4 linked regions of the Homo sapiens genome follow. The protein of the gene in region 4 purifies or fractionates together with the protein of the main gene of each other region. This does not show direct contact. Each region holds a gene or a part of one and is shown on either strand. Other genes may lie near its edges.

Region 1 (5,246 bases), on a different chromosome or scaffold from region 4:
GCAAAACTCTTATGAACAGTTAACAGAATGGGCCGGGCACGGTGGCTCACACCTGTAATCCCAGCACTTTGGGACGCCAAGGCAGACGGATCATTTGAGGTCAGGAGTTCAAAACCAGCCTGGCCAACATGGTAAAACCCTGTCTCTACTAAAAATACAAAAATCAGTCGGGCAGTAGTGGCACACACCTATAATCCCAGCTACTCGGGAGGCTGAGGCAGGAGAATTGCTTGAGCCTGGGAAGCAGAAGTTACGGTGAGCCAAGATCACGCCACTGCACTCCAGTCTGGGCAACAGAGTGAGATCCTGTCTCAAAAAAAAAAAAGTTAACAGAGTTTACACAGTTTTACACTGCATACAGAATTGTACAGATTCTCTATAGAGTAACAGAATAATCTATTATGGTGACCCTACAAAAGAACAACAAAGGCTAGGAGAATTAAACTATGTCTGGTCTTGAAGTCACCTGGTCCTCATTACCTATTACATAACTCAGAGACAATTTGCTTTACTTCACTGGGACCAAGTACTTTGAAGTAGTCCCTTCTAAAAAACAAAAAAATGACCTAATCAGAAAGGAAAAGGCCAATGGGAACATGTAAGAGGTAAACAAAGTTAAACATTAAATACATTAAGAAAAGAGCTGCCTGCTCTGTACTCAGATTATAAAAAAGGGATAATTACACATCAACAGTTTTTTCAGGGGGTTCTTCCTCTTTGACAGGGAGCTCAATGGGCTTTGTTTCTTCTTCCTAAAACCAAATGAAACAAGGTGGTTAACATAAATCTAAAGAATAAATATCTATCAAAAGAAGAACATCAGAACTCCAAAATAAACCAGTCTCTCAGAACCTTCATACCCATCTTATGCTCCCCTAATAAATTTACATCTAAGTCCTCCAATGACTGATGTTAAAGCAATGTGGCCAAAGCAGTGGCACATTACCAGAGACTAACCTTACTCTATCCAACTCACCTCTGTTTCATCTCCCAGTACATCTTCTTCATTTGCCTCCTCTTCAGCTAAAGAATATTAAAATATTCAGGTCAAGCCCTGCTACAAAACCATCTTGATCACTTACCAAGGTTAAAATTATAATCACTTTGCTTTCCCCCAAAAAATCCAACAGTGAAGGCAGAAACTGATGCACATAAAATCTGCTACATCTGGAGAAGATAAAACCAGATTTCTACCTAACATTAATTACAAATGTGAACTCCAGTTGGACTGAAGAACTAAATGTGAAGTCAAACTAGAGAATTAATTTTAAAAGTAATGTTGGGCCAGGCACCGTGGCTCTCTGTAATCCCAGCAATCTGGGAGGCAGAGGCAGGTGGATCGTTTGAACCTAGGAGTTCAAGCGACCAGCTTGGGGAACACAGCGAAACCCCGTCTTTACAAAAAACATAAAAAAATTAGCTGGGTGTGGGGGTGTGCGCCTATAGTCTTAGCTACTGGGGAGGCTGAAGTGGGAACATTACTTGAACCCAGAAGGCAGAGGCTGCAGTGAGCTGAGATCATGTCACTGCACTCCAGCCTGGGTGACAGAGCAAGACCCAGTCTTGAATAACAAACAAAAAAAGTATGTGGAAAAGTATCTTTGAGATTTAGTGGTGGGGAAAGATTTGTTTAAAAGAAAAACAACCCAGAACCAAAAGTAAGAGGTGAAAAATTGAAGATTTTTCAAAACTAAGTACTTCTACTTAAGGATAGCACAAAGAAACTTAAAAGACAAATGACAAGACATTTGTTTTTGTTGAGACAGAGTCTTACTCTGTCGCCCAGATAAAGTGCAATGGCACAATCACAGCTCCCTGCAGCCTCCCCCTCCTGGGCTCAAGGGATCCTCCTGCCTTAGCCTCCCAAGTAGGTAGGACTACAGGTGCACATCACCACACCCAGCTAATTTTATTATTTTTCTTAGAGATGGGATCTCACTATGCTGCCCAGACTGGTCTCAAACTCCGGGCCTCAAGAGATCATACCACCTTAGCCTCCCAAAGTGCTGAGTTACAGGCATGAACCACCCCGCACAGCCAAAGAAGATATTTGTGCCTAAAATCAACAAAACAATAGTTATTAGAATATAAAAGAAATGCCTGCAAGCCAACAGGCAAATTATGGGAACCTCAACAGAAAAATGGGCAAAGAAGAAACCCAAAGAATTGTGAAATGTTTAAACTTTTTTCATGGAGAACATAAAACAGCCAACAAATTAGCAAAACTTAGGCCACTTGATAGGACAGTGCCAAGTTTAGGTTTGTGAAGATACAAGAACCCTTATGTACTAGTAATGAGACTGCAGATCTACAGAGCAATTCTGGAAAATAATTTGGGAGTCCTTAGTCACATTAAGTATATATTTATGAATATTAATTAGCAATACCATTCTTGGGCATATACCCCAAAAAGACTTTCACAGGAACATAAGAGCATAAAATAAGTAGTTCATAATAATATACTATATACTATTAGTATATAGGATATAGTATACTATATCCTACAGGTTAAGCATCACCAATCTGAAAATTCAAAACCTAAAATGCTCCTAAATCTAAAACTTTCTGAAGGCTGATATGATACAAGTGGAAAACCCCACACCTAACCTCATGCAATGGGTCACAGTCAAAACTTTGTTTCATGTACAAAATTATTTTAAATACTGTATAAAACTACTTTCAGATATGTGGATAAGAAACAAATAAATTTTGTGTTTAGGCTTGGATCTCACCCCCAAGATATCTCATTATATATATACACAAATATTCCAAAATCCGAAAAAACTAAAATCTGAAACACTTCTAGTCCCAAGCATTTCAAATATATAACACTCAACCCATAGTATAATATATACTATATACTATTATATACATATAGTATACTATAAGTAGTATCACTTATAGTAGCAGAGGCTTGGTGGCAATAAAATTTTCTGTCACCGAGTGAATTAAGTAAAATGTGTGGTTATCCATCATTGAATGCTATGCAGGAATTAGAATCAACAGACTAGATAACTACACAGTCACATTCCACATGGACGCATCTTTAAAAAAAAAAAAACACAATACTTAGTGAAAAAAATGAGAAATAAAGCAAGGCTATGGCCAGTTATGTAATTACCAATTATATAAATGAAAACATTCTACAAAACAACACTACATAGTTTACCAGGAAAAACACCAAAAAAATACATTCAAACACATTAGAACGGGTGCCTAAATGGGTTGGGGAGAAAGTGAAATGAGGAATAGAAATAAAAGGGAATACGTAAATAAAAATTAGATAGAGGACTTGTACAACCTAAGATGTAGGTTGTACAAGATGGCTGGGCGCGGTGGCTCACAACTGTAATCCCAGCACTTTGGGAGGCTGAGGCGGGTGGCTCACCTGAGGTCAGGAATTCTAGACCAGCCCAACCAATATGGTGAAACCCCGTCTCTACTAAAAATACAAAAATCAGCCAGGCATGGTGGTGCTCGCCTGTAGTCCCAGCTGCTTGGGAGGCTGAGACAGGAGAATTGGTTGAAGCCGGGAGACAGAGGTTGCAATGAGCTGAAACTGCGTCACTGCACTCCAGCCTGGGCAACAGAGCAAGACTCCATCTCAAAAAAAAAAAAGAGAGAGTTTTCTTGATGCCGTTAATTAAGAGCTTACATTGCTAATGACCTGAAAAAAAAAAAAGAAATCTTTTCAGTGTCAAAGCCTGAAAATCCCCTCACTCACATCACTCCGCCTCCACAAAGTACTCACCATGTTCTTCAAGATATGCCTGGAGTCTGTGGATAAGATCTTGCTTTATTCCCTTGGTCTCCAAACCACGAGCAAGACATTCTTGCTTTAGTTCGGCAAGCTGAGGGGAAAAAAATAAAACTTTTCCTTAGTTAACAGGATGAACACCAGTGAATAAAATGGTAGTTCCCACAAGGAAAAGAAAAAAAGAAAATGAAGTTCCATCCCAAATTACTGCCCTTAATTCTACCAAGGCTCTAGGTCCACAAAGATGATCCATTTTCCTCTAACGATATTCAATATACAAGAGGAACTGCCTAACAGATGCTGAAGAATAAACATCACACTTTAATAAAAAACCTCATCTATTTGTATACCTACTAACTGTCACAAATCTCTAGTTATTTCTAAATATTCTGAGGGGGGAAAAAGGTTTTTTTCTTAAGACTACTGTGGCAGCCAGCATATTGGAAGAATGAACCTTCAAGTAGAAAATCCAATGATCTAAAAGCAGATTCTCCTTACCACTTATTATCCCAGATCCGTTATTACAATCTACCATATACATGCATACAGGTCTAACCACCATAGAATTAGGTAGATGCATTAGCTAATGTGAACAATGAATTGATTAAAGGATCTGTGTCAAAATGGGAAGAAATATCTAATGGCATACCATAGAGTTCTGCTGAAGATTTAACTTATCTAAAGATATAAAAGCTATGTTCATCAATTTTACAGACAATAGGAGGAAGGAGAATTGATGGATTATTGACATAACTAAGCTTAAAAAATGCAACACGGAAACAGAAAAAAAAAAAAACACTTCTTCAGGACTAATAATAAGCCAAAACAAAGACTCAATTTAGTAGGAATAAGGTATACATATAACTTCCTACACTTAGATTCAAAACTTCAGTTATATAAAAACTGGGTAAGGGAGGATTGGCTCAATAGTAACTCAAAGGATAAAGACATCAGAATTTTAGGCAAAGAAGGTTAACAGTATGATTTGCTACCTATAAGTCATAGGTAACTGAAATATAGACTCCATAATAAACGATGTAATGGCCTTACTGGGCTCTATACTCTTATTTTACGAAGCACAACGACATGCTGACCCAGGAGAACAAGCAGGAAAGAAAGGCTCCAGAAATTCTATATGCAGATCAACACACAGATAGATCTTTGGTCTGAAAGATGACCTTTTTTGTTTTGGAGTACAGATCTATGACCAATCAGTAGAAGCTAGAAGGCAGACTCCTATAGACAAAAAATTTTACAACTATGGAGGATGCTCTGCATCTCTACGTTTTTCAGCTAGGAGAACATTTCATAATGAAAAGTGGAGAGTTTTTTAAAACATATCACAATGGCCGGGCGCGGTGGCTCACGCCTGTAATCCCAGCACTTTGGGAGGCCGAGGCGAGTGGATCACAAGGTTAGAAGATCGAGACCATCCTGGCTAACACAGTGAAACCCCGTCTCTACTAAAAATACAAAAATTAGCCAGGCG
Region 2 (5,246 bases), on a different chromosome or scaffold from region 4:
AGGATTTGGAACCCAGGGATTCTTATCATTTTCTGGACAGTAACCGGTTTTAGGGATGATAAAACTTTTCCCCAAATGTCTGTATACATACAAAACTTTGCACGTGAAAAGTTTAGGGAATTTCACCTGAATAACAATTGTATTAACCAGCAGTTAAGTTTTATCCACCACATTAAACATAAGCTCCCTCCTCCTGATAACCTTAAAAAAGGTATTTTCAGCTCTAATATTCTGAATGTAATGTTGGGGAAAAAAAACCTCCCAGGAGGTGTTATTAATACAAGGATTCATAACCAGAATTACATCACCAGATATTGGAATGAGCAGTATTAAATCAGTCAGATTACCAATGAGAAAAGTCAATACCAACTTGTAAGGACTGAAATATTTATGTTAACATGGTTCTTTTTATAGATTTCTCACTTAAAAATTTTCTCACTCACTTAATTACTCAAAGAACATCTTCAGTTACTAACTGGAGAAACTGAAAATGAAAGAAGAAATGGGTGAGAGTGGAATCCTCCCACCTCAGCCTCCCCAGCAGCTGGGACTACAGGCACAGGCCACCTTGTGTGGCTAATTTTTAAAAAAATTTTCTTTAGAGACACTGGGTTTCACCATGTTCCCCTGGCTGGTCTGGAACTCCTGGGCTCAAGTGATCCTCCCACCTTGGCCTCTCACAGTGCTGGGATTACAGAGATAAGGCACCACACCAAGCCCTGAGTCAGATTTTAATAAATTCAGTTTCCATTAGAGTGGAAAATTTTCAAATTAATGAATTATTTATTTATATATTTTTTGAGACAGAGTCTTGCTCTGTCGCCCAGTCTGGAGTGCAGTGGCATGATGTTGGCTCACTGCAGCCTCTGCCTCGTGGGTTCAAGCAATTCTCCTCCTTCAGCCTCCCCAGTAGCTGGGATTATAACCTTGCATCACCACCCCCAGCTAAATTTTTTTTTTTTTTGTATTTTAGTAGAGATGGGGTTTCACCATGTTGGCCAGGCTGGTCTCGAACTCCTCACCTCAAGTGATCCACCCACCTTGGCCTCCCAGAGTGCTGGGATTACAGGCGTGAGCCCCAGTGCCTTACCAGAATGGAAATATTTAAGTAAACAAAATATTTCTAAATGTAAACTAATGGCCTACTTATTTAGCAATTTCAGTTCAGTTCTTAGGAGTTTAATATTTCATCTATATTTTAATTAACCACAGATATTAGGCTTTCTCAAAGATAACATTTTGTCCTAATTTTAGTTTCTCAAATCGTTATTAAGGTTATGATGGCAACCCAGCTTGTGAAGTAATAGATGATAATAATATAGTCAGGAAATATCATTTGGTAACCAAGGCTTCAGCAAAGTATTAAGATTTTTGTGTTTGTGAGTGTTATAGGTAACACTGTTGGCCCCCAACATTGTCATTTTGTACACTTTGTTGATCAGTGGCCTGAATTCATTAAAATTCACACTACATGCCTCAAAAAGAATATTGGATCCCAGCCTAGGTTGTTGAGTATATTCCTGTCCTTTATTAAAATGTAGGTTGATAGAAAGGTGGTAGGGATATTTAAATCTATCATGCTAATTTACTTTCTTTGTATCACAGCAAGGATAGGGAATTAGGAAAAGATTACTCACTCAATAGAGAAAAGGTAGATAGAAAATCCAGTATTATCTTGACAAAGCAGTGAATGTTTTAGTATGATTGAGGATAGGTAATCTAGTGCTAAAGTTGGTCACAGAATTTCCTGCACAAAATGAAAGATCTGTGTATGGGAATGCTAGAGAATTTGACTTCTCAGAAATATATAGACCAACAGTGGTTGCCTTTTTTCATTTTCACTTCTCTTCATTCTTAGATCTACGGAATCCAGAGGCAGCATTGTCTCCAACCTTCCGTAGTGACAGCCCAGTGCCTACTGCACCCACCTCTGGTGGCCCTAAGCCCAGCACAGCTTCAGCAGTTCCTGAATTAGCTACAGATCCTGAGTTAGAGAAGAAGTTGCTACACCACCTCTCTGATCTGGCCTTAACATTGCCCACTGATGCTGTGTCCATCTGTCTTGCCATCTCCACGGTAATGACCTGACAGAGTTAGGATTTACCACTTATTTTCAGTTCACGGTCAGTGTCTTATTGCCCATACCTCCCCTCGTTCTCTAGCCAGATGCTCCTGCCACTCAAGATGGGGTAGAAAGCCTCCTGCAGAAGTTTGCAGCTCAGGAGTTGATTGAGGTAAAGCGAGGTCTCCTACAAGATGATGCACATCCTACTCTTGTAACCTATGCTGACCATTCCAAGCTCTCTGCCATGATGGGTGCTGTGGCAGAAAAGAAGGGCCCTGGGGAGGTAGCAGGGACTGTCACAGGGCAGAAGCGGCGTGCAGAACAGGACTCGACTACAGTAGCTGCCTTTGCCAGTTCGTTAGTCTCTGGTCTGAACTCTTCAGCATCGGAACCAGCAAAGGAGCCAGCCAAGAAATCAAGGAAACATGCTGCCTCAGATGTTGATCTGGAGATAGAGAGCCTTCTGAACCAACAGTCCACTAAGGAACAACAGAGCAAGAAGGTAGGGGTCATGTGAAAATACTCTCACAATATGCTCTTAATTATAGCTTTGTTTGACAGGGATTTACCCCTAGGGCAAGGAACTGTTTACAGCAGTGGTTCTCAACTGGGGATGATTCCCTACTGCCCAACTCCCAGGGGATCTGGTAATGTCCGGAGACATTTTTATTGTCACACATGGGGGAGTGCTATTGGCATCTAGTGGGGGTAGAGGCCAGGGATGTTGTCAAACATCCTACAGTGCATAGTGGGACAAACCCCCACAACAAACAGTTGTCTGTCCCAAAGTGTCAACAATGCCAATGTCGACAAATTCTTATTTAGATAATCTGTCACTGAATCTGAAAGAATTGGATCAAGAGAAGAGGAATCCAAATATATAGAAATATAGGGAGATGAATGGAGAGGAATACTAGACCAATTATGGAAATTGACTAAATAATGTGAATTGGTTCTGAGTATAAGCATTGGCCTGACATGAGTTCTTATCTGTTTGGTACTTCTAGTGCGTGAGTTTGAACAAGTTAATTAACTTCTCTTGAGCCTTAGTCTTCTCATCTGTAACATGAAGATAATACCAGCGTATCCTGCCTTATAGAATTGAATAGACTCTGAGCTAAAAAGTAAAGTGTTTAGCACTATACTTTTTAGTTCAGCACCCAGTAAATATGTTTTTTGTAGAAGGAATGCCTTCCTGGGGAGGGGATGTTAACATAATGCTTAGCGGTAGGAACCAGGCCTCTTCCATTTTAATTTCATCCCAAATGCATATTTGTGAGGAAGGACTGAACCCCTAACAAATCTCTTATCTGAAGGCTCCAATTTTCCAATATTAAGTTAGCTAATTTAGGTCTAGGCACAATGGCTCATTCCTGTAATCTCAACACTTTGGGAGGCCAAGGCGCGAGGATCACCTGAGGCGAGGAGTTCAAGACCGGCCTGGGCAACATAGACCCTATCCCTATAGAAAGTAAAGTAATTAAAACATTAGCTGGCATGGTGTCACGCACCTATATTCCCAGCTACAATTGAAGGCTGAGCTGGGAGGATCACTTGAGCCTGGGAGTTCAGTGGGAGAAACAGTGAGTTATGATTACACAACTACACTCTGGCCTGGGTGACAGCAAGATCCCATCTCTTAAAAAAAAAAAAAAAAAAAAAGTTGATTTATCTCTTAGAAGACATTAATGTCAAAAAGAATTTGCGGAGTTGGTCTAAGAGCCAATTTGATCTATAAGACATTTTAAGTCCAAGGCTACTTCTGTCACAGGTCAGTCAGGAGATCCTAGAGCTATTAAATACTACAACAGCCAAGGAACAATCCATTGTTGAAAAATTTCGCTCTCGAGGTCGGGCCCAAGTGCAAGAATTCTGTGACTATGGAACCAAGGAGGAGTGCATGAAAGCCAGTGATGCTGATCGACCCTGTCGCAAGCTGCACTTCAGGTCTCTTGGAAGGGAATGAGGTGGGATGGGTTTGTCAGAAGCAGCCATTCCTTTTCAGCATATTCCTTCCAGTCATTGGGGTTCTGTCTGTAATCTTATTTAGTTTATGGTTTGTGTAAGTCCTCCAGACCCTGAAGGTGTACTTTCAGAAGTGCATTGTGTGGGAAGAATACAGGCTGTACTCCCAAATAACTGAGATTTTTTTTTTAAAAGCTCCCTCCCTCTTAGAATAGCAAAGTATGTCTGTCTCTGAGCCACAGTGAAAGTTAAAGTACTCTGAAAGGAGGATAATCTTAGGAGAAAAGGAACCTAAACTCTTAGGTCAGTGTTTTATTCTGTTCTACCCAAGTCTCCTGCACTGCTTGCCTTCCAGTGGTAAAACAGGAAACCAAGTCTTTACTCAGAGAGGAATTACAATTGTTCTGTAGTATGAATTATGGATTTCCATGCTACCTGCCTCCCTTAAAACTCTTGAAGGAAGCTCTAATGATAGAATTAGGGGAGGGTAATAAAATAGACATTTTGAAATCATTTGGAATTTGAACTGTTGGATCTACATCTGGAGCACCATCTTGATTCTCCCTTTTTATTTTCCCAGACGAATTATCAATAAACACACTGATGAGTCTTTAGGTGACTGCTCTTTCCTTAATACATGTTTCCACATGGATACCTGCAAGTATGTTCACTATGAAATTGATGCTTGCATGGATTCTGAGGCCCCTGGCAGCAAAGACCACACGCCAAGCCAGGAGCTTGCTCTTACACAGAGTGTCGGAGGTGATTCCAGTGCAGACCGACTCTTCCCACCTCAGGTACCTGTCTGCTCAGAAAACTCGTCTCAACTTACGGACTTATGTTTGATAGGGCAGCCATACACGTTAAGAAAGCAGAGCATAATTCAGCAATCTTGTCTTGCTTATTGGGAATGGAGGGGGATAGATAAGCTTTTAAGGGAATAGGAAAAATCAAATGGAAAAGAGGGACTCGGGCCATGAATCTCAGAGTTAAAGTAGGGAAGATGACCAAATACCACTTTATGCAGTGGATCTGTTGTGATATCCGCTACCTGGACGTCAGTATCTTGGGCAAGTTTGCAGTTGTGATGGCTGACCCACCCTGGGATATTCACATGGAACTGCCCTATGGGACCCTGACAGATGATGAGATGCGCAGGCTCAACATACCCGTACTACAGGATGATGGCTTTCTCTTCCTCTGGGTCACAGGCAGG
Region 3 (5,246 bases), on a different chromosome or scaffold from region 4:
CAGACAGTAATTTTTGTATTACTGAATTTATTAGTGTTGAATTTGCAAAGTTGTGTTTTCCAAAGTTTCATTCTGCAGCACTTATAATCGATTGTTGAAGATAGTGAATAGATCAGTACCTAGAAGTAAAAATGGATACAAGTACTACAAAGTCCTGTCTTGCCTATTTAATAGGTATTCTATTAATGTTTGGGGCTCTGAATTATATGCTATAATTTCTATGCTAGCATTCATTGTTTCTTAAATTTTAATGAGTTTAAAATTGCAGGCTTCTAATAGAATATGAATATCTTCAATTTATTTGGTGATCTTGTCCTTTTTTTAAATTTTTATATATGACCATGGTGAGACATTTGTAAACTTAAAAAAAGCTCTATTAATTAAACCATTTTTGTATTATTATTTTAAGTATTTCAGTTATTATTCAGATTCACATAGTTGATTACCATTTTTAATCAGTGAATTTTTCCAGGATGTTTTCTACATCTTTGTCTGCTTTCCTATAACTCAGTACTGTAACTCAGTACTCTGAAATAGTTTCCTTTGTTAATAGAGTCACTTTTATAGTACTGTGCTTGAGGTCATATACAGAGTATTGTGTCCAAATTTATCATTGCACAAAGTGTTTTTGGAAATTCTTGGTTACTCCTTAGTAAATTACCTGTAATTGGGTTACATGCTGGTAGGGTTTAAAATCTGATTGCTAAGTGAATTCTCTATAAAGTGAGTTTTGATACATAGAAACTTTTCATATAATTCTTAAACTCATGTGTCATGTATTTTCATTTATAGTTTTCATATTCATTAACATATGTTGTTCCTTACCATTTACAGCTCAGAATTCTGCAAATGCAGATTTTGCAAACTTTGATGCATTTGGACAGTCTAGTGGTTCGAGTAATTTTGGAGGTTTCCCCACAGCAAGTCACTCTCCTTTTCAGCCCCAAACTACAGGTAGAGCTTCTCCAGCATTGTGCTTAAATGTTTACTTTACAAAACAAAACTCTCTAAATGTAGTTTTGAAAAATTAGTCTAAACTTAAATTCTGTAATTATCTGACTTTAAAATGGTTCTATCTTCAAAAGCTCTGGGGAAACCTGAACTCTTTATTTTTTTCTATGTTCATTTGTTTTTCTGCATTATTTGGTATATTGTCTGTTTGACAACATCCATTCTCCTCCTTTTCCTGCGCATGAATCTTCCTTATATCTACCATGCACACAGGACAGAGGCATGACACTACTATAAGTATTTCTCTCTCTCTGTCTCTTTTTTTTTTTTTTTGGCAATCCTCCTGCCTCAGGATGGAATACAGGCACATGCCACCACTCCCAGCTAAATTTTTTTTTTTTTTTTGGTAGCAGCTGGGTCTCACTATGTTGCCCAGGCTGGTCTTGAACTCCTGGCCTCAAGTTATCCTCCTGCCTTGACCTCCCACAGTGCTGGGATTACAGGTGTGAGCCACTGTGCCCAGCCAGTACTATAAGTTTTTTAAGGTTCATAGAATCCATTGATTTAGGCTGACATTATACCTCTTAATAAAGGAAGCTGGTTGCTTCTGTAGAGCTAAAAATGTAAGTAATTTTCGGGGCAACAAGCCTGAGAAAAATTTTTATATGTTTATTAGACAAGAGTAGATTAATGATCACTTCAGTCAAACTTGGAAATAGTTTTCTGTGCAGGAATTGGTGTTTAAACATTGAATACTCTTTCCATAAATTGTGCTGTTTTCGTAAACTCATGGAACCCTTATTTAGATTTTTGGCTGATTACTTTTCTTTCAACTTTTAACTCTGTGTATTGTCTTAAAGCCTTTTCTTTCAATTTTCTTTTTTGTTTTTTCTTTAACTTTCATCATTTACATAATTTCTGGCTGTCCAGCATTTAGAATGCTTTCATCTAGCTGCAGTTTTGGTGAATTTACTTCAGCTTTTCCTCTTCAGGCTACCCACAGTAAGTTCTGTTGTCAAGTAGGCATCTTATACTAATTTGTATATTTTTGCTATACTTCAAGGGTTTTTCCAGTTATAGATTGTTAATAATTCTTTAGTGATAATCCTTCATAAAAATCTCTTCCAACTCTATTTATTAAACTCAGAGTTAGAGAACACAATAGTAGACAATCAAAGAGTTACTTGGTTTAATAATAATTTGAAATAATATTCTTTATATAAATTTTGAAAGTTTAGTATGTACTTTGTTTGCCAGCTCCTTGTAACAGGTCACAATATTTTACATACAAACATATATTACTTACCTTTAATTGAAACCACCATGATTTAACTCTTGAAAGAAATTTGATCAGTGTATATTTTTTTTAGAATGTATAAAAACCTGCTTGATAGAAAGTGTTCGTGTTTTTTTAATAGAAGTTCATGCATTCTGTTTTAAAATTATCTGTAGTTGTCTTTTCTATCACTTTAATATATAACTGTGTATATATACTGTTTTGATTTCTGAAACTAAAGTTTAGAAATAAAGAACTAATATCCCAAAAATGTAGGATCAAAAGCATAGAATGAAATATACTGGTTTTAGTCTTTTGATAGTACTTTAAGGAGGTCTCTATAATAGAGAACAGATTTTAAAGATGTAACAGGATATATATAATAGTGGCCATTAGGTGAATTGTGGTTTATAAAGTCAAAAATTGCTATAATGTATTATGTACTGTAATTTTAATGCCTTGAACTATATGGTACGGCATGATTTTACAGTGGACATCTTGATATTGTATACACATTAAACTATTATGTGGAATTAAATAGTAGCTCTTCAAGTGAAGTAAGTATAAATGTCAACGACCATCTTTTAAGGAATTTTGGATCACCGTAACACATTTTACACATTGTTAATCGCTACCCCTGGGATTGTTTAAACTGTTTCGTCATGGAGCCACAAAAGTTTGAAATCCTCCTAGTAAGATACTTTGCATCTTGTTTGCAGTCTGTTCAGGGAGAACTAGTGAAAGGCTGTAGTATATTTGGACTAGAAAGTAACTGAATCTCAAACCAGGTAGTGTGGAGATACCCCTCCATGAATTACATTCTTCATTCCAGGGTAGGTAATACACAGAAACATGTTACTTTACCTGTTGCCAAGGCCTTTGAAAAATCTACTTTTACAAAATTGGAAAACGTCACTTGTAGTCAAAAGCCATTGCCAGTCATTGATTTTAATGTTGTAAGATTGCTTATAGGACATTTAATTTAGGAAGAAATGATCATACAGTCTATGAGAGGGTACTAGGAAAAGCTTAGAAATTTCAAGTGCTCTGTTTATTCTGTTACAGGTGGAAGTGCTGCATCAGTAAATGCTAATTTTGCTCATTTTGATAACTTCCCCAAATCCTCCAGTGCTGATTTTGGAACCTTCAATACTTCCCAGAGTCATCAAACAGCATCAGCTGTTAGTAAAGTTTCAACGAACAAAGCTGGTTTACAGACTGCAGACAAATATGCAGCACTTGCTAATTTAGACAATATCTTCAGTGCCGGGCAAGGTATCAAGCTTTAAGCAAAACAAATACAAATTTGTGTTAAACAGTGCTCTTAATTTGGTTGTATTTATTAAAATCTGAACATGCTACACTTTTCTCAGTTGTTGTATAGAAATTTTGTCTGCACTGTCATTTTGAGTAAAATGTTCACTTGACACATTTTAGACCTGAAATATCAACTACAAAACTGAAGACATAGGGACTGATTTGTAAACTTTCAGTCTTACTAGTTGAGAAAAATTTTATTTTGTCCTAGAAGGCGTGCTTTACTTTTCTTTGGCTATAAAGAGCCAAGAAACCCCATTGGCAGAGCTGAATGGAGGATTATTTGGTGGTTTCTGTAATATATTTACTTCGAACAATTTTCCGTTAACATCTTGGTGGGTTTTTTATATTTAAAAAAAAAAATTCATGAATTTTACAGTATAGTCTTGTATCCAGTTTTATCTTAAGGCTAGTAGCCTCTACAAATGCATGTGGCACTGGTGAATAGCAGGTGTGTGTTGCTAAATGGAATTCTCCATTCTGATCTCTGGGCCTGTTTTCCTCCTCTCCAAAATGAGGATAATTCTAAGCATTAAACTCATGGAGTTGTGTTCTAAGTATTATTGCATGTTAAGGCATATAGAACAGTGCCTAGCACATAGTAAGTCCTCAATAAATGTTTCCCGTTATTACCATCTCTAATTTTTTTGTGGAGAATGCTGGGGAAATGATGCTATTGATAGACTGTTCACATTAGGTCTAGCATTATATGAATTTATATGTTCATGTGAACAAGATCCACCCGTCTTGGAGATGTTAACGTAAGAGCACTTGAGAGTTTCTTTCTTATGCATAATCCAGACAAATTTTTTTGGTACAGAGTGTTAATTTTTGTTAAGAGACATATTCTGTCTTTATCACAGTGGTATGTATAACAACTAATCCTGTCCAGTATGGTCCAGGTTATTTATTAGATTAATGATTTGGAATCCTGCTTAACTCTAAATCCATTTTAAGTTTACCTGTGTTTCATGGCAAATGTGGTTGATAAGTTGAAAGTGTAACTTTAAATTTTTGGTGTAACTTGATTTTGTTCGTTCCCAGGTGGTGATCAGGGAAGTGGCTTTGGGACCACAGGTAAAGCTCCTGTTGGTTCTGTGGTTTCAGTTCCCAGTCAGTCAAGTGCATCTTCAGACAAGTATGCAGCTCTGGCAGAACTAGACAGCGTTTTCAGTTCTGCAGCCACCTCCAGTAATGCGTATACTTCCACAAGTAATGCTAGCAGGTACCTTGTCTTAGCTAGCCCTCCTGCTTTGTGTTTTATCTTTTTTTTCCAACTTTGAATAATCAATTAAAAAATGACTGTTTCAAGGTATAATTTTAAAATTCTTGGATATTTTTGTAAATTTGAGGAATTTGAATTTAAATGCTAATTAAAATATAATCCTTGAATAATTGCCATAATTTTATCTTTTCATTGAATCAGACGTTTTGTTATGTTCTGTCCTTGAACACTAAACCGTATTTGAGAGCATGTACACATCTCAAAATGGACAGTTCCTTACAGATTGTACTCAGCAGAGAATCCATTTAGTAGTCAAATAATATACTTTAAAAATAGTTTTTAGTCATGATGATTAAACAGTGAAAGTCCCATATTATAGGCTTAGTTGTAAATACAGATTTTTAGAAGTGTTTGCACCAAAGCCCAAAATCAATTCTGTATCTCTTCAGTGTCATCCTCATATTTACAAATAAGCAC
Region 4 (5,246 bases):
TGCAGCTGATATTACAAAGGGCTAATTACCCTAATATAGACTTCCTATAAATCAAAGGTCAATAACTCAGCAGAAAAATGAGCTAAGGGTATGACCAGATAATTCTCAGAAAAGGCAATACAAATTGCTCTTCATATGAAAAAGTACCTGATCATCTCTTTTAGTAAAAAAGAAATATGAGATACTATTTTTCCCTCCAGTAGACTGGCAAAAAAAGAAAATTTTGACAACATGCTGCAGGCAAAGAGAAACAAGCAGTCTCACAGGTGGTTGGCGGTCCCTGTCCAAATTCTAAGTGTGTGTGCTCTTGGACCCAGTGATCCTACTTGGAGTTTTTCCTACAGATATATTTGCACACATGTGCTATATGCACAGGGCTATTGACTGCAGTATTACACATGCATGCAGCAGAAGACCAAGCAGCTATAGAGAAAAAGAGTTCCTCACACCCTGATAGGGAAAGGTGTCCATTGTTCAATGCAAAAGCACAGTGCAGCAAAGTGCATGGGTAGGGCTGGGCAGAGGAGCAGGGTAGGCTTTTTGATATATTCCTGGCCTCTCTGTCTTTCCCCACAGCCATACTGCACCCCAGGGCGGGTTCAGTGCCACCTCTGTCCATCACAGCTTCCCCTGCCAGAGCCTGCATCCCACCAGTATCAGGATCTGCTCAACTGTCCATCTCTGCCCCTGGAACTGTGTGCCTCCAGGACGATGACTGGGTCTGGTTTGTTTTGTCCCTGTTAGGTAGCATGGGCACTGGCCTAGCTAGTGGCTTAAGAGCTGGAACGAATGTGCATACCCTTTGGCTTCTTGGCCCTGGAGGAAGAAGCCCAGCTGGAGCTGTGACCTCCAGCCAGCACTCTGGCCAATGACCTGGACTGAGGTCCCAGTATGGGCAGGCCCGGAGAAAGTGAACTACCCATCGCGCACAACCTCTCCTCACCTGAGTGCCCTGGTCAGTAGGTGCAATGAACACAATGAAAGGCGAAAGTTCTGCTGTCCGAACAATTTTCAGGGTCTAGAAAAAAAAAAGAAGGGCGGCGGGGAGGGGGGGGAAGGAAGAAAAGGAAAGTGAAAAAAAAAAACCTACATAGCTGTCATAATGGATTCCTTCTAATAAGCAGCTTTGAGCTTTACCCCAATACAACTTTCCATCATTCCCAGTACTACTGTTCTTGTTCCAGGCTGACCCCATTAAAAGGCTGAAGCAATCCTGAGCCCCCAGAAGATTCCCAAGGAGCACTGTCTTCGCCATCCCTTGTGTGGCTGAGCCCATCTGTCCCTGCCCTTCCATGCCTACCCACCTGGGGCTCAATGTCAAGGATGGCAATCTTGTTCTGCTTATGGATCTGGTGCACTGTTTCAAATTTGGTGCCAAACATGTTGCCTTGGTAGCTGCCAAACTCCAAGAACTCATTGGCAGAGATGTTCCTCGTCATCTCCTCCGTTGAGATAAAGTGGTACTCCTTCCCATCTTCCTCACTCTTCCTTGGCGGCCGTGTTGTATCTGTGTACAAGAACCCAAATCCCCGACAAACTCCAGGTCCTCACCCTTTCATGAGGGCTTGGACCATGGTGTCTGTATGGAAACCCTAGCTGCCTTTGGTGCATTGACTTTAATACAGGGGTTCCTCCCGTGGGCTCCTGAAGAGCTGATGCTAGAAAGTGATGCACACCAGGAAATCCCTCCATCTGCCCAGGACACATTTAATTTTTAAGGGGCAAAGCCTAACATAGAAAATTCCTATTATCATTTTCCCTAAATGAAGTTACATCTCTCAAACTACCAAATCTAGGAATATTGAAACTTAGAAATGAAGATAGCGGAAAATATTTTAAAAACAGATCTACAGACTATGGTCAGGATTTCTTGGAAATATATTTAAGGTTTCCTTTTCATGACTTGGAAAGAAGAGTACTTTGGTTTAGTTTCAGCTCATGTTGTTAAAAGTTGGACTATTTTCTATTACTCATATAAATTGTCTAATCAGTAAAATATGCTCCAGATATTGTAGCTTGAAACACAATCCTCCCAACCTCCCCTCTTTCCATCTTCCATTGACTGTCTCCTTTGCCTTCCGGATCACACTTGTCTCTCAACTGGCCCCTTCCCCTCAATCTACAACCACATGTGATTCTCTTGAAGGAGGAGCCTGTACTGGTTATTTCTGCTTCCCCACTCACTCCTGGGGCCATCTCTTTCTGCTCCTAATGTGACACTGGAATAACTCTTATGTCCCTCCAGCAACGAGACAACTCTCAATGATCCATGTGTAAAAAAGCAAAATGAAGAAAGAATTAAAAAATAGTAATATGAGGTTTAGAATCTGGTTTTCTATTTTGCTTAGCAGTACAGTAATTCCTCACTTAATATTATTATCAGTAGGTTCTTAGAAAATGTGACTTTAAGTGAAATCACATGCAGCTGGTCGTTGACTAACATGGTTTAGTTCAACTTCATTTCATTGTATTGTTGATGAGTAAAAAAACTGGTTCTTGTTATATGTCATTTCACTTAAAGTCACAGTCTTCGAAGAGCCTATTGACAATATTAAGTGAGGAATCACCGTATTTCTTTCTGGGAACATACACAACTATACCATGCAGCATCACTTCTGGGAATGGAAGAGTTATCAAATTCTCCACCTGATCACTGGCGCTACTCTTCTCCATATCTAGGACTGCTGTTGAGATCGTTTGGGCCTTTCCTAGGCACTGCTTTGATTTAGAAGACATTCCATGAAAATGAGAGGCAGCCTGAACATCAAGAGTGGGATAGTTCTCAAAGAGAATTAGGCAAATTGCAGAGGAACATGAGAAAATGTTTAAAAAGTAAAATGACAAAGTTATATGTATAAACTTTAATACTTAGTAATTTTTAAGGCAGTATCAAAATGTTTACTATAGCTTCTGTTATGTAGACAAACAGCACGAATAACAATAAGAAAACAGTTATTCTGTTAGGTGGAGGAATTGTGGGCACAAATTTTTATCTTTCCATATTTTGTTTAGTTTTAATAATCATTTAAAATAAAATAATTTAAAAAATAATAAAATAACACTATGGTATTTCAGATGGCGAGTGGTACCAGCCTGTCACCTCCCCTCCAAGGTGCCTAAGAGCTACTTACATGGGACAGGGTACACAAACTTCTCCGGATTCTGGCTGAGCAGGGCATTCTTAATGTGGCTGCGACCCACCCCACTGGCTCCTGTGTAGAGAGAGAAGAACATCTTTTGGAAAGGGGGGAGAGGAGCGAGGATAAGATACGGATTTTCCTCTCTCGGCACTCAAAACTGCCAACAGGTGAACATGAGTTGGGGTTGCATCTGGGCTGGGGTCAACTCTAAAGACAGGAAGGTGAGCAGTCCGCCAGAGGCAAAGCCTACATACCTGGGTTTGAAGCAAGGACTTACTCTGTTTCAGGTCAGAGTCACTGCTTGGGGGAAGGGAGATTTACAAAGCGTATCACTGCCAGCAGACAGCATGAAACCTAACCAAAAATAATTCGTTGCTAAATAGTAGAGAAACTTGTAAGGTTTAGTTTCATTTGTGAGGTGGACCCAGGTGGGGTGCACGTGAGGATTCAGAAAATTCCTTACACCTGCTCTATATGGAGAACCCAAGAGACCTCAGTTCTTTTCTTCCTCACTGCCTTTTTTGGGGGTGGGCACGTGATGCAGGCAGGAAAACAAAGACAGAAATGTGCAAATGGGGCAATGAGAAGATACCGATCAGCACCAGGGTCTTCCTCTTGAATGCAGGGAGCCGAACGACTTCCTCGTAGGAAACAACATCCAACTGATCAAAAACTAGAGACAAAGAAAACCAAGCAGTGTTCATTTCCAGAGCTAGGGAGAACAGTGGTCCACACTCTGAAATGGGAAACAGCCTCGCGACATCTCAACAAGCAGGGAGGAAGTGACTAGAGATGAGACGAGGGAGGTTGGTGTGGAGGAAGGACTTTGGACTGTATTTTTAGTGTGGTGAGGGAATTTTGAGCAAGGGAGTTTATCTAACTTTTGCACCCTCTCTTCCTCCTTGCCCTATCTCTCTGAGCCAACTTTTCTTGTCTCCTGTCCTCATCTCTTCTCCATAGTTTCAGTATCAGATGTTCCCTTGGCACTTAGAGCTGAAGAATGCCAATGCTATCTCGGTTCTGCCTGAATGTCCCTTATCTTAGAAGATGGTGGTGCTATTGACCCAGCTGCTCAAGATAGAGACCTGGTGTCATCCTGACTCTCCACCCCCTTACCTGCCTACAACCCAAGACTGCCACGATCATTCCCTGGCTGGTGGTGTGCACGTGACGTCTCAGAAAAGAGAAATGCAGATGGAAAGCTGACCGTGCGAATTCTCTGCTCAAAACCCTTCACCAGCTCCACAGTCTATAGTGCAAAATTTAAAACGCTAGGGAGGGTGCACGAAGCTCCCTATGACCTGGCCCTGGCCTCTCCCTCTGGCCTGTGTTCTTGCCTCACTTCCCCTCTCCCACCACATCTACTTCTGTGTGAGGGGTGGGGTGATGAGCAGGTGTGGGCTCACCACTAGTCCTCCTTTACATCCACTGGCCTGACTGCAGCAAGCTTGTGAAGATGGATTCAATAAAAAGAAACCAGAAGAAATGACATGCTTTCTGTAGAATGCGCCTTCTGCTGCGCACTGCACCACCTCCCCTTTTCTGCTGGTTACAGAGACTGGGAAACACGTGAATGCTGCCAGGAACCTGGGGCAAGAAGGCTCAGAAAGCTTACTCGAGCTGTGCTTGGCCAGATATTTGTCTTTGTACTTCTTCTTCTTCCCAAAGGGACTGCAGCTCGGGGCTTCGCTAGGAGCTGACTGAGCCATACTTGCCACTCGCCTGGTAGGAAAAGACAATCAAGGGGTCAGCTTTCCTCCCCCTCCCCTCATACCCCCCCCAGCCACTCAGTCTCTAATGGCACCCCCTTCACTCTCTGAGTGTCCATTACAGTGGGAGATAATGTGTGCAAAGCACCCCATACACTGTTTGGTGCATCTTGCACTGTGCCCTGCCCTCAGTCAGGGACCTGGCTCCTTGAGTCTGTGTCATCTAGTACCTGTCAGCACATTCTGGACACAACCCACAAACAACTCTCTTTCTTTGGTCTAGACCATAAAGGTCTCAAACCTTTATGACCCTACCTCACTCTAAGAAATACACTGTACATTGCAAGCCATTATTGCACATACATCTATAAACAAAACACATACACACACCCCACAT

The links.
Region 1: the proteins of MPP1 (region 4) and SARNP purify together in Homo sapiens (affinity purification with mass spectrometry; one large-scale study listed by BioGRID and IntAct). This does not show direct contact.
Region 2: the proteins of MPP1 (region 4) and METTL3 purify together in Homo sapiens (affinity purification with mass spectrometry; one large-scale study listed by BioGRID and IntAct). This does not show direct contact.
Region 3: the proteins of MPP1 (region 4) and AGFG1 purify together in Homo sapiens (affinity purification with mass spectrometry; one large-scale study listed by BioGRID and IntAct). This does not show direct contact.

Annotation. Positions count from the first base shown.
Region 1 is NC_000012.12:55,799,878-55,805,123, forward strand, and holds part of SARNP (SAP domain-containing ribonucleoprotein), read right to left. Parts: intron 3,852-5,246; coding exon 3,752-3,851; intron 1,024-3,751; coding exon 977-1,023; intron 753-976; coding exon 685-752; intron 1-684. UniProt on the Homo sapiens protein: Binds both single-stranded and double-stranded DNA with higher affinity for the single-stranded form. Specifically binds to scaffold/matrix attachment region DNA. Also binds single-stranded RNA. Enhances RNA unwinding activity of DDX39A.
Region 2 is NC_000014.9:21,500,494-21,505,739, reverse strand, and holds part of METTL3 (N(6)-adenosine-methyltransferase catalytic subunit METTL3), read left to right. Parts: intron 1-1,858; coding exon 1,859-2,076; intron 2,077-2,162; coding exon 2,163-2,567; intron 2,568-3,836; coding exon 3,837-4,012; coding exon of another isoform or gene 4,013-4,031; exon of another isoform or gene 4,032-4,032; intron 4,033-4,610; coding exon 4,611-4,827; intron 4,828-5,057; coding exon 5,058-5,245; intron 5,246-5,246. UniProt on the Homo sapiens protein: The METTL3-METTL14 heterodimer forms a N6-methyltransferase complex that methylates adenosine residues at the N(6) position of some RNAs and regulates various processes such as the circadian clock, differentiation of embryonic and hematopoietic stem cells, cortical neurogenesis, response to DNA damage, differentiation of T-cells and primary miRNA processing.
Region 3 is NC_000002.12:227,530,257-227,535,502, forward strand, and holds part of AGFG1 (arf-GAP domain and FG repeat-containing protein 1), read left to right. Parts: intron 1-834; coding exon 835-954; intron 955-1,881; coding exon of another isoform or gene 1,882-1,953; intron 1,954-3,292; coding exon 3,293-3,502; intron 3,503-4,588; coding exon 4,589-4,769; intron 4,770-5,246. UniProt on the Homo sapiens protein: Required for vesicle docking or fusion during acrosome biogenesis. May play a role in RNA trafficking or localization.
Region 4 is NC_000023.11:154,780,296-154,785,541, forward strand, and holds part of MPP1 (55 kDa erythrocyte membrane protein), read right to left. Parts: intron 4,863-5,246; coding exon 4,756-4,862; intron 3,814-4,755; coding exon 3,733-3,813; intron 3,213-3,732; coding exon 3,132-3,212; intron 1,508-3,131; coding exon 1,305-1,507; intron 1,019-1,304; coding exon 944-1,018; intron 1-943. UniProt on the Homo sapiens protein: Essential regulator of neutrophil polarity. Regulates neutrophil polarization by regulating AKT1 phosphorylation through a mechanism that is independent of PIK3CG activity.